Linked DNA regions of Homo sapiens. The protein of the gene in region 3 interacts with the protein of the main gene of each other region in a biochemical or structural test. Each region holds a gene or a part of one and is shown on either strand. Other genes may lie near its edges. The genes, in order: CIAPIN1, COX17 and CHCHD4.

What was found.
Region 1: the proteins of CHCHD4 (region 3) and CIAPIN1 form a complex in vitro, tested with the Homo sapiens proteins (one study listed by BioGRID).
Region 2: the proteins of CHCHD4 (region 3) and COX17 form a complex in vitro, tested with the Homo sapiens proteins (one study listed by IntAct).

The regions. Positions count from the first base shown.
Region 1 is NC_000016.10:57,433,714-57,437,467, forward strand, and holds part of CIAPIN1 (anamorsin), read right to left. Parts: intron 3,020-3,754; coding exon 2,943-3,019; intron 500-2,942; coding exon 331-499; intron 1-330. UniProt on the Homo sapiens protein: Component of the cytosolic iron-sulfur (Fe-S) protein assembly (CIA) machinery required for the maturation of extramitochondrial Fe-S proteins.
Region 2 is NC_000003.12:119,669,549-119,673,302, forward strand, and holds part of COX17 (cytochrome c oxidase copper chaperone), read right to left. Parts: intron 118-3,754; 3' UTR 1-117.
Region 3 is NC_000003.12:14,118,117-14,121,870, forward strand, and holds part of CHCHD4 (mitochondrial intermembrane space import and assembly protein 40), read right to left. Parts: intron 1-3,754.

The DNA.
Region 1 (3,754 bases), on a different chromosome or scaffold from region 3:
TGTGAGGTCTTCTGAGGAGAAACGTTAATTCTGGGACCTGGAAGGACCTCATTAATTAAACTGTGTGACTCAGTCCTGTAAAATTAGGAGGCCTCGGTATCTTCTGGTGCAGAAGAAGGAGCTGAACTAGATAATACCTATGTATTATTTCAGTTTTGGATCCTAATATGCCCATGATAATAGTACATTAAGTATTCTTCTTTGTGGAAATGGCAGAAATCAAAGGACTAATCCTCTAAAAATATCACCATCTCATTTATTGCTGGCTCAATTTCTAACATGTCCCTCTAAGCCCATTCAAACAGAAGAATGTCCCTAGGCCAGCCTTACCTGAAGGAGAAGACTTCTTGGTGATGGAAAGCTTAAGCTGCCTAGAAGAACCCACTTCAAAGTTTGGTTTTTTGCCTGTGATCTGAACAAACAGCAGGTTGTCACTTTCATGACCAAGGTGTTCTCGAACAGACTGTACTTCCTCAGGGGTTAGGGGCTCCCGCTGCAGCTAGAATTCAAGACATCAAAAGGATTAGTTCACCCTCCTCTGTAAAATGGTTTACTATGTCTACCTACACAGGAGTCAAAGACTCATTTCTGTGCATTAAGGATGTAACAGTGGATGGTAACAGATAACACTTTATGCCTCACATTCAGTTTCTCACTGATCAGAACCCTAGAGTATAACCTTTGTCTGCATGTTTACTTGGAGCCTACCCCTTGGAAAATGTAAAAGTACTTAAAAAACATTAGGGATGAGGCATATACTAGTTATTTGGGATGTAATACAATTATGAAAATGAACCAGATGTGGTCCTACTGTGTAACAGGAAAGAATGCCCACAATGAAGACAGCAGAAATTTATATCCCAAAAGAAAAAGGGGGAGGAAAATCCTTTCTATGTTCCTTGGGATAAAGTAGCAGAGAGTAAAGGTAGAAAAAAAGGGTCAGGGTGCCACCTCTATGTCCAATAATTATAGACTGGTTACATAAATCACAGTCCATCTATTGTATGGAATACTATTACATCATTAATATGAATGAAGGGAAATACACTGAAGTAGGTAAGTGTCTATGATATCTAAGGGTGGGAAAAAAGGTGATTGAACAATGTATACTTATGATCTTATTTACATTTTTAAAAAAGTATGTGCATGTAGATGCTTGTAAATACATAGGAAAAGGTCTGAACGGACATACAAAAAGGCATTGGTGGCTTCCTCTGGGGAGGGAAGTGTGAGCAAGAAGTGGGATGTCACTTTATATTCTGTATGCTTTGGTGTAAAGTGAATTTTTATGAGGAGTCTGATATAGTTTGGATATGTGTCCCCTCTAAATCTCATGTTGAACTGTAATCCCCAATGTTGGAGGTGGGGCCTGGTGAGAGGTGACTGGATCATGGGGGCAGATTTCTCATGAATGGTTTAGCACCATCTGAATTCTCATGAGATGTGGTGGTTGTAAAGTATGGCACCTTCCCCACCCCGACTCTTCCTCTCTTTCTTGATCCTGCTTTTGCCATGTGATGTGCCTGCTCCTGCTTCACCTTCTGCCACGAGTAAAAGTTCATTGAGGCCTCCCTAGAAGCCAAGCAGTTGCAGGCCCGTGCTTCCTGTACAGTCTGCAGAACAGTGAGCCAATTAAACCTCTTGTCTTTATAAATTATTCAGTCTTAGGTATTCCTTTATAGGAACAGAAGAATGGCCTAATACACATTCCTTATTTTAAAATCAAGCACAGAAAACCTTAAGCTAAAAGGAAAAATAAGAAAGGGTTGGCATAAAGAATCTAAGGCCTGGCATAAAGAATCTAAGGCCTGGCTCACGCCTGTAATACCAGCACTTTGGAAGGCCAAGGTGGGTAGATCACCTGAGGTCAGGAGTTAGAGAACGGCCTGGCCAACATAGCGAAACCCCATCTGTACTAAAAATACAAAAAATTAGCCAGGTGTGGTGGCGCACGCCTGTAATCCCAGCTACTCGGGAGGCTCAGGCAGGAGAATTGCTTGAACCCAGGAGGCGGATGATGCAGTAAGCAGAGATCGTGTCACTGCACTCCAGCCTGGGCAACAGAGCGAGACTGTCTCCAAAAACAAGAAAAAAAATTAAAAAACAAAGAATTTAAGGCCCTACATTATGTAAGAAATAACAGGCACAACAGCTATCATGCTGTAACATTTACCTCTCCCACATCCAAGAAAATTTTAAGATCAAAGAGTGTAGAAATATAAATACTTCTGCTTAATTTAAACATTTCCACTGAATTGTCAGAAAAGGAACTTTGCCCTCTAACCTATTCCAGCCTCCCACCAAAAATGTGAGGCTGAACTAGATGGCAGTGTTCACCCAGGCCTAGGATTCGGGTCTACTGAGAGGTGGGTGTTGGAAGCAGCAGAGCTGCTGCTCATGCCCCTCAGCTGTCACCACCACTAAACTAGTACCAAGGAGACAAGAACAAGCCCCAGCCCACATGGGCCAAGCTGAGTCTCTTTGAAGTTGGTTATTCTCAAAAGTTTTTTTTTGTTTTGTTTTGTTTTTTTTGAGACAGAGTCTCGCTCTGTCGCCCAGGCTGGAGGGCAGTGGCGTGATCTCGGCTCACTGCAAGCTCCGCCTCTCAGGTTGACGCCATTCTCCTGCCTCAGCCTCCTGAGTGGCTGGGACTACAGGCGTCTGCCACCAGGCCCGACTAATTTTTTTGTATTTTTAGTAGAGACGGGGTTTCACTGTGTTAGCCAGGATGGTCTCGATCTCCTGAGCTCGTGATCCACCCACCTCGGCCTCCCAAAGTGCTGGGATTACAGACGTGAGCCACCACACCCGGCCGATTCTCCCAAGTTTTGTCCTTTGAAGCATCATGTATCTTACATGCACAGCATTTCTTGTTTCCTAGTTCTAAGCAATACTGATTACCTCACCTGCAGGGCAGCAAAGAAAGTTGTCTACAAACGTACCTCTTTCACTTCCACAAGACCAGAAAGAGTCAGGGCTGAACACAGCTTAGATGCTGTCTTCACTTTGCTATTGTTATCTGCCAAAAGGAAAATCCCAATTAATAGCTTTATAGTTCAAAGTAGGAAAAATAATAAAGGCTCAATCCTATATGGGTTCGCAGGCATTCAAACAATAATAACCAGGTGGGCGTGGTGGCTCATGTCTGTAATCCCAGCACTTTGGGAGGCTGAGGTGGACAGATCACTTGGGGCCAGGAGTTCAAGACCAATCTGGGGCCAACATAGCAAAATCCCGTCTCTACTAAAAATACACACAAAAAAAATAGCCAGGCGTGGTGGCACACGCCTGTAATCCCACCTACTTGGGAAGCTAAGGCACGAGAATCGCTTGAACCTGGGAGGCGGAGGTTGCAGTGAGCCGAGATTGCACCACTGCACTCTTGCCTGCACAACAGAGTGAGACTTGATCTCAAAGAAAAAACAAAAAAAAAATAATAACCTATTCTGTTTAATGTACAGATGGTCCTTGACTTAATGATGGTTCTACCTATAATTTTTCAACTTTTATGATAGTATGAAAGTAATACTCATTCAGTAGAAACTGTATACTTCAGTTTTCAGTAAATTACATGAGATACTAAGCACTTTATTATAAACAGGCTTTGTGTTAGATGATTCTGCCCAACTGTAGGCTAACGCAAGTGTCCTAAGCGTGTTTAAGGTAGGCTAGGCTAACCTAAGCAATTGTGTTTAGTAGGTTAGATGAATTACATGCATTTTCATCTTAATAGTATTTATCAGGATGTAACTCC
Region 2 (3,754 bases), about 110 Mb from region 3:
TACTTTCTTCTTACAATAAATTATAAATACTTTTTCCACATATCAAAGTTCGTCAAAGAACTCCCAAAATTAATCTTCTTCATTCTTCAGGAATTATTTATTCACACAGCAGACCACCTACAGAAAAATATTTATTTTAGAAAGTCAGATTTCAAACATCATGCCAGATCTATGGAGTCAGGGAATTAAGACCACTAGAAATGAATGCCTCAGATGAGTAATTAACTAATTGCCAGAATTATTCCAAATCAGTCATAAAATTCAAAATCAACATTTTAAAATTCTAGGTTTGCCTAACTAAAAACATTAGTGAAATTATTCATGATATTATTTACTCTTTAAAAGTTTTTGAAGTAAAAACTCTCTCTGCGTGTATATATATATAATACATATGTGTGTGTTTGAGAAATACATATTTCTCAAAAATATCCTCCAAAAAAGGCTAAAGCAGTTATTTTTACAGATATTCAAGAAACAAGACCTGCAAACCCCTCTTTGCTGATTCAAGTATGCCTGGCGAAGATCCACAAAGTAGAAGGCAGAAGGTCAGCTCAGTACCCAAGGCACTTCCTGTGGAAAGTTACTCACTTAATCCCAAAGGCAAGACAAGGGCAACCCTTTAATATTCATTTGGAAAAATCAAAAAGGGAGAGTAGCATAGATAGGGTTGCTGATCCAGTCAAGTCAATACCAGGCTTCTCACACCTCTCCCAGTGCCTATCCCAGAAGATTGAGAACAATGCTAGGAAGGTAATTAAATTGGGGTAGCTAACTCTTCAAGTCTAATGCAAATATTTCCTTCATTTAGCTGTTCACTTCATTTGGTTTAAATAAAGATAAACCACATCAAGATACAAACATCTAAACTCTTTTCTAAAAGACTCAAAGGAAGAATACATTTATAGAAAAGTTTGGAAAGATAACCAAAAACGAAGCCATTCAACCTTTCAATTATAGCAGCCCATAGCATTGTTACGACTTTTGCGACTGACTACATAACAAAAGGGGCTGTGTGGTGGAAGACCCTGGATTTAAACCTGTTTGATTATATCTCTGGATGTAAAGTCTTTGACTGGAGGGATAATCTTTCTCTCCTCAGTATTTTCCAGGGTCTTAATAAATATCTGCTGAATGAACAAATGTTTGAATGGCAGAAATTATTCTTTCTGGATTATCTTGGGATATTTTCATACATGATCAGTTTTGTGTGTGTGTGTGTGTGTGTGTGTGTGTGTGTGTACAATTCAGCATATTTTAAGCATCCAACTGTTAAGTTGTTAAACTTAATATTGAGTATCACCACTATTCAGTACTAGTCCTTTAATTTCTTTCAACGACTTTAGTCTCCAAAATAGGTTCTTTAGGCTTCTTCTGTCTCCTAAAGGCAGGAAGATAGTAGCCATCTATTTCCTCATATTTCTAATGAGGTTCTAGGTTCTTCTAATTACTCTTTTCAGTAAAAGCAGCAGTCATAAAATAGAAAAAAATTGTCTAAAATCACCACCATACCTATTTTTTCTTGAGTTTTCAAGTCTCTGCCTTTGCTACTACTAAATTTTCAGATACTTTATGCCTAGCATTATCCCTGCTATTCATCTTCAACTTAGGCCAGTGGTTGTTAAAGAGGAGTGCACTTGAAAATCATCTAGGAGTTTCTCAGTCAACAGGTGCAGACCAGGGCCCAAGTTGTGAATTCTGGAAAACATTCTTCAGATGATTCTGAGGTGCACCTCTGGGTAAGAACCACTGGGTGAATGTAGCCTACTTTCAGGTAAGGTATAAAAAATGTATAATAGATTTATTCCCAATCTACTGCACTTGAGGTACAATTAAGATCTACTTAGGAATAACATTAAAATCTACAAAGGTTTTTGAATTAAGGAACTTTCATGATCGTTGCCAGAGAGATCTAAGTTTGCAAAATATTTTTCCTTTGAAGCTATTCTCAGAAAAATGTGATCTAACAGTCTAAGAAATACCGATTTAGGTTAAGTTTATCTTATAGCAATGCAGACAGTTGTGTTGGATTTCACCCTCCAGCCAATGGCCTGTTTACTGGGTTATATGCAACTGTACATTTCCGCAACAAGTCTTTCTAATTAGCATTCATAATGAGGTTTTAAGATTGAAGATCAAGATTATGTGCAATCCTAAAAATGAATATGTTGGAATAAAATCTCATTAAGTACAAGGCGTGAAGTGTAAAGTGCCTGTGATTTAGAGAATATAAAAATCTTAACTCTAATCTAATTCTACCACTATCCACTCCTAACTTGAGCAAGTCTTTTTTGACTTCACTGTGCTTCCATTTCCCCATGGAGGTTGGGGAAATAGGACACCTGGGACCAATAAGGATCCAACACCCAGTCCTCTTCCCAAAATATTATTACACTGAAAATGAAAAACATGGCAGTTTGAATTCTCAGAAGGGTCCTATATGGATTCAGATTGTTCTTCTTGTAACCAGGATTCAATAATAATCAAGTCATATACTTAACAGACCTCAACTGAATGTCTGCTATCCACAACTCTAAAGGTATGAGCTATTCTGTTCTGGTTTTTACAGATGATTTATTTTACATTGAATCATCACAACTCTATGAAGTAGTTTGGGCATGTATTATTGTCTCCATTTTACGGATGAGGAAACCAAGGTACAGAAAGTTAAGGACCTGCCCAAGACCACACAATCAGTTAAGCAGTAGATTTTCTAAGTCTAAAGCTTTTGCATTTTCTTTTACACACAAATGAAGTACACAAACATAATTCTCACTCTCTGCCCTGATAACATAAAGAAAACTATGATATCATATGATACTTTTGAATATATGCCACTTATAACAATTGTACCACCTTTGTGGTTCAGATGAAGTCCAAGATAAGCTTTTGATATTCCTAAAATTAGCATTTCTTTTTATTTAATCACCCCTTTTTATCAAGGCAAGTTCAGCACAAGCCTACAGCTTACACAACTGACGAGGGAGTTAGATCATGAACAAGGAAACCATGTACAAATGTTAAGGTTGCATCTTTAAAAATAGTTAATAAAGTACACATACTTTTTAAGAACACACTCCCCTTCAAATTTACTTATTTTATAAAATAGTTCATTATGGGATTTCTTTAAATAACCATCTATTCTAAAAGCAACTTAAGTATATCATTTACACAACAGTAGATATACCATACTATATATAGAATCACAAAATGTATTATGGTTCTCTTTTTATAAATAATAAGTGAAATTCAGAGGAGTAATGTCTTGATGAAGCTAAATGTAGCTAAACTTAAAAACATGATAAACTAAACATCAGGAGAATAAAAACAAAGCCTCAGGACTTTCAGCCTAGACTGTTTTCCATTACACAGTAACTTCTTATCAGCTTGCGACAAGTTCCTTATCCCTCCTTTTTTATAGCTCAGTGAGGAAGACTGGCCATATGTGAAATTCCAAAGAGGCAGGAAAGAGGTGCAAGGGAAAGAAGCCAGGCTCTCTAGTACTAATATATTGGCATATGGCTTTGGCATTCTCTCTCAGCTGTTATTAAGTTAAAAGTGGTAGTGTGGTGTGGAAGTTAGGGTAGGGGCAAAAAGCAGAGGGAATCGGCATGGAGACTGAGGCTCCAGTTCTGATACTGCACAACCCACCTTGGGGGCCATTTCATAACTATAAGCTTTAATTTCCTTATTTATTCATTCATTTAACAATCCTCCATTAAGCACCTACTATGAGCCAGGCACTGTTATAGGTAGT
Region 3 (3,754 bases):
ATCCTAGAAGATCTGGGGTACTGGGACCCTCATCTGGAAGGGGATAGGAGGTGCCAAGCATTTAAGAAGACTTCTTCAGGTATGGCCAAAAGTGCCTGGCAGAGAGCCACAGTGCATGGCTCTGAGTGAGTGGCCACTGTGGGCGCAGAGGCCGGACCTGCAGAAACGTGGCCCTGTGAAAGCTGCGGGCATCTCTGATCACTTTATACTTTTTGTTTATATTTAGAAAAGTTCAGTCACAGCTATGCTGAGGGGAAAGCAAGGAAAAAGGTTTGGGCCCATGCTTGGGCTGAAGTAATTAAGGAAGAGGCTTCTGGAAGGAAGGGGGCAGTGACAACAAAAACCGAGCGACATCTCCAGTGAGAAGGACAGTTCAGGGGACAGAGGGAGGGCACTTTGGTGCCTTACGCCATGCCCACACTGCACAGGGTCTCTTACACTAGAACAGAGTAACAACAAAAAACCCTCAGCACACGGGGCCAGGACCCCCAACCCACTGGAGGCTTTTGCTCCCAGAGCTGGCCTCTGCCTCAATACCTTGCATGTCATCCAACAGAAGGCTGCTTTTCCCCTGTGGCTGACTGGGGAAAGCTTTTGGACCAGGCAGCCAGGACTTGTTAAAGTACCTAGTAACCTTGATTCTACTATTCTGGCCAGTTTCCAAAATACTCAAAAGCAATCTGTAAAAATGTTGAACGCTAAGCAGAATGAGCTGATGCAAATTTCGCAACTCAGCTCTGGCAGTTTTGTTTACCGAGATGGCAGCTCAGCGCAGCCCAACGGGGAGGCCCAGTCACAGGCACAGAAAGCAAAGGGTCCAAACGTGGTAAAGTATGAGGCCCTCCTGGGGTTTGCCATACATAGAGAGACCAGGCCTCACCCAAGAAAAGCTGAATCGAGCTCTCTGCCATGTCCATGTAGCTCACGGGCTTCACAGGTGACTGTGATACACAGCCAGGTTAGGAAACACCAGCCTAGCACAATCCCACTGAGAATTCCAGGTCCCTCCCACTGGGCCAGGTCCTCACATGTGCCTTCCTGGACATTTTCCCTTGCAGCACAGTTCACACTGGATCGAAAGTAGAACAGTAACAGCTGTATCTTTTACACATTTTTGTCCCATGCAATGTGTTTTATTACATCTGTGAGTTCACTGGTGGGTATTACTTTATCTCCATTTTACAGAGACCACAGGATCTGAGAAACAGACCAAAAGACATGCAGTAAATGAAGGCAGAACAGGAACAGGAACTCTGGTCTGAAAGATCTGGAGTATGTCCCCTACAAACTGTCCATTGTATGCCTGTCCTAGAGGGCCTTTGCTTTCTGGAACTTTTAAAAGTCGATTCAAGGACTGATGCAAGGACAAGGCTTACCTATTCCTAACAGACCTAACTGTGAAAGAAAGGACTGGTCAGACTAGTCGTAAGATGCCAACTAGTGGGACAATCAGCTAGACTAGTAGTTCTCATGACATTTGTCAGCAATTTCTCTAGAGAAATAAAATTTAAAAGTGCTTGTGTTTTTATTTCTAAGATAAGCTTTAAAAGCAGTTGAATATGCATGTTCTGAAGGAGGTGGAAAACTACCTTAAACCCTCTGGTGCACAGTGGCTTCAATATTTCAATATCACAGAGAGTCTGAGAACTGGAGTTCAAATCTGGGCTTAAGCACTTCCCACTGTATGAGCTCAGGTACCATCTGGGCCTCAGAAACCAGGCCTTACCACCAGCTCCACCTACCTACCTCACGTGGTTGGGGAGGTGAAATGAGTTTCTGCTGTCAGCTGGAATCCCACTTGACAGCAATTTTTAAAGGGCATCAAGGATAGCATGGCCAGGAAAAGAGACAATCACAGGCTCAGAGATGTCAATAATGTTTTGGAAATGGGAGAGCTGATGGTCGAGTGCTCTCTGACTTAACCAGTGAAGAAAGCTGAACTCAAAGTGCACAAGGAGGAGGTCATCCAGAATCAACTCAGTCCCCACCCCAGAACCTTGGTCAGAGTGGGGAACTGGAGGCCCGAGGGGTTACTCTGAGTGCAGGACTTCAGGGTGGGGCTGAGAACAGAACTGAGTGAGCAGTCAGATACAAAGACACCTTCCACCCCCAGCTGTTTAGTTTTACTCTCGGTAGAGCCACCCCAACCCGTCTTTCTCTCACATCTCCAACAGCAAATTGGAATGGCTCGATCTTCAAATACATCCAGAAAGAGCTGCATCCCTCACCTCTTCGACCCCATCTCCCACCATCACTCCCTGCACTCCAGCCACGCTGGCCTCTGCTTTTACTTGAATGTGCTGAGCACATGCCTACCTCTGGCCTTTGCACAGGGTGTTCTGTCCTCCAGGAGCACCTTCCCTTCCCTCAGGTACCCTCACAGCGATTTCTCCCTGCTTTCACCTCCTGCTCAGATGCCACCGTCCCTGACCACTGCCCATCTCCCTTATCCCGCTTTATCTTTCTCCAAAGTGCTTTTCGTCACCCAACATACTATGTATGTTTACCACTTGATGCCCCCACTGGAATGTCAGCTCCTCAGAGGCAGTGATTTTTGTCTATTCTGTTCATTGCAGTATCCTGAGAGCCCAGAATAGTACCAAGGACAAAGTGGGTGTTCAATATTTGTTGAAAAAAATGAATGGAGAAACAACTCTGGATTAGGGCTTGAAGACCCAAGTGTAAGAATTAAAGAGGAGAGAAACACGAAGGGTGGCTTTTCAGTCAACAGGGACAGGTTTATTTTAAACAAACCTGAGAGGGGCTGCTGGCTGAGTTAGGTCAGAGCCACACTCTCTTACAGACTAAGAGTTTTTAAGGATTCAGGGTGGGAGAGCTTATCAGTGGCTTGGACTGCTTCTGTGTCTCTTTGTTGTGCTTATCTGGGAGGCAGACTGGTGTGTCTGTTTCCATACATCTTTCTGCAGCTGCAGGCATATCCCCCCAAGACTGCTTTTAGCTTCCCTATCTTAGTACACCTGAAGGGAAAGGAATGTGCTTATTAAGGCCCACAGTTTTACTGGGGCCCATTGTATGAGGGTGAAGTTTGGCAGTCACCCAAGAGACTTTCCCCCCACCTCCCTCTGTGTCCCAGCTGTCTTGTCTGTGTTTTACTGTCTGCTCTTTCTGGCTGCTTGTAGTTAGAAGAGAAGTGACTTCCTTGAAATGCATGAGGCTAGAAAGGGAGCTGGAACTTAATGTGCCAGTGTTTGTCCGAGATGACGCTACTCCTGCTCTGTCACCCAGTCCCAGCAGAAAGCAGGAAGACAGAATGGTTATCACCATTAAGTGAGTGAGACCAAAAAATCCCTTGGATGAGTAGTTTGATTTCCCCCATGAAAGGGGAGGATCTTTATACACCAGAATCTCTCAGCTCATCCACCCCAGAAGGAATGCCCCTGTGTCCTGCAGAGGAAGCAGTTTATTGTCTCCCATGGATGCTGACTCCCCAGGGTCATGTTTGAGAATGGCAACCTGCACTAAGGACTTATTTTCTTTCGTTTTTGGCTAAGTTGATTCAATACACCTGTGATACAATTCCAACCACTACTTTCTGAAGCTCAACCCAAGAAAGAGATCTAAAGCCAGAGGGAGTGGTGCCTGTGGTGTATTTTGAGTGAGGTAAGGGGTTTCTAAGAGTTTGATAAATCTGACTGCTAAGGACTTTCATGTTTAGAATCTAACCCCTTTGAAAGATACAACTCCCCCATACAGAATCAAGTGTCTGTGAAGAATACACAAATGGCTTTCAGAC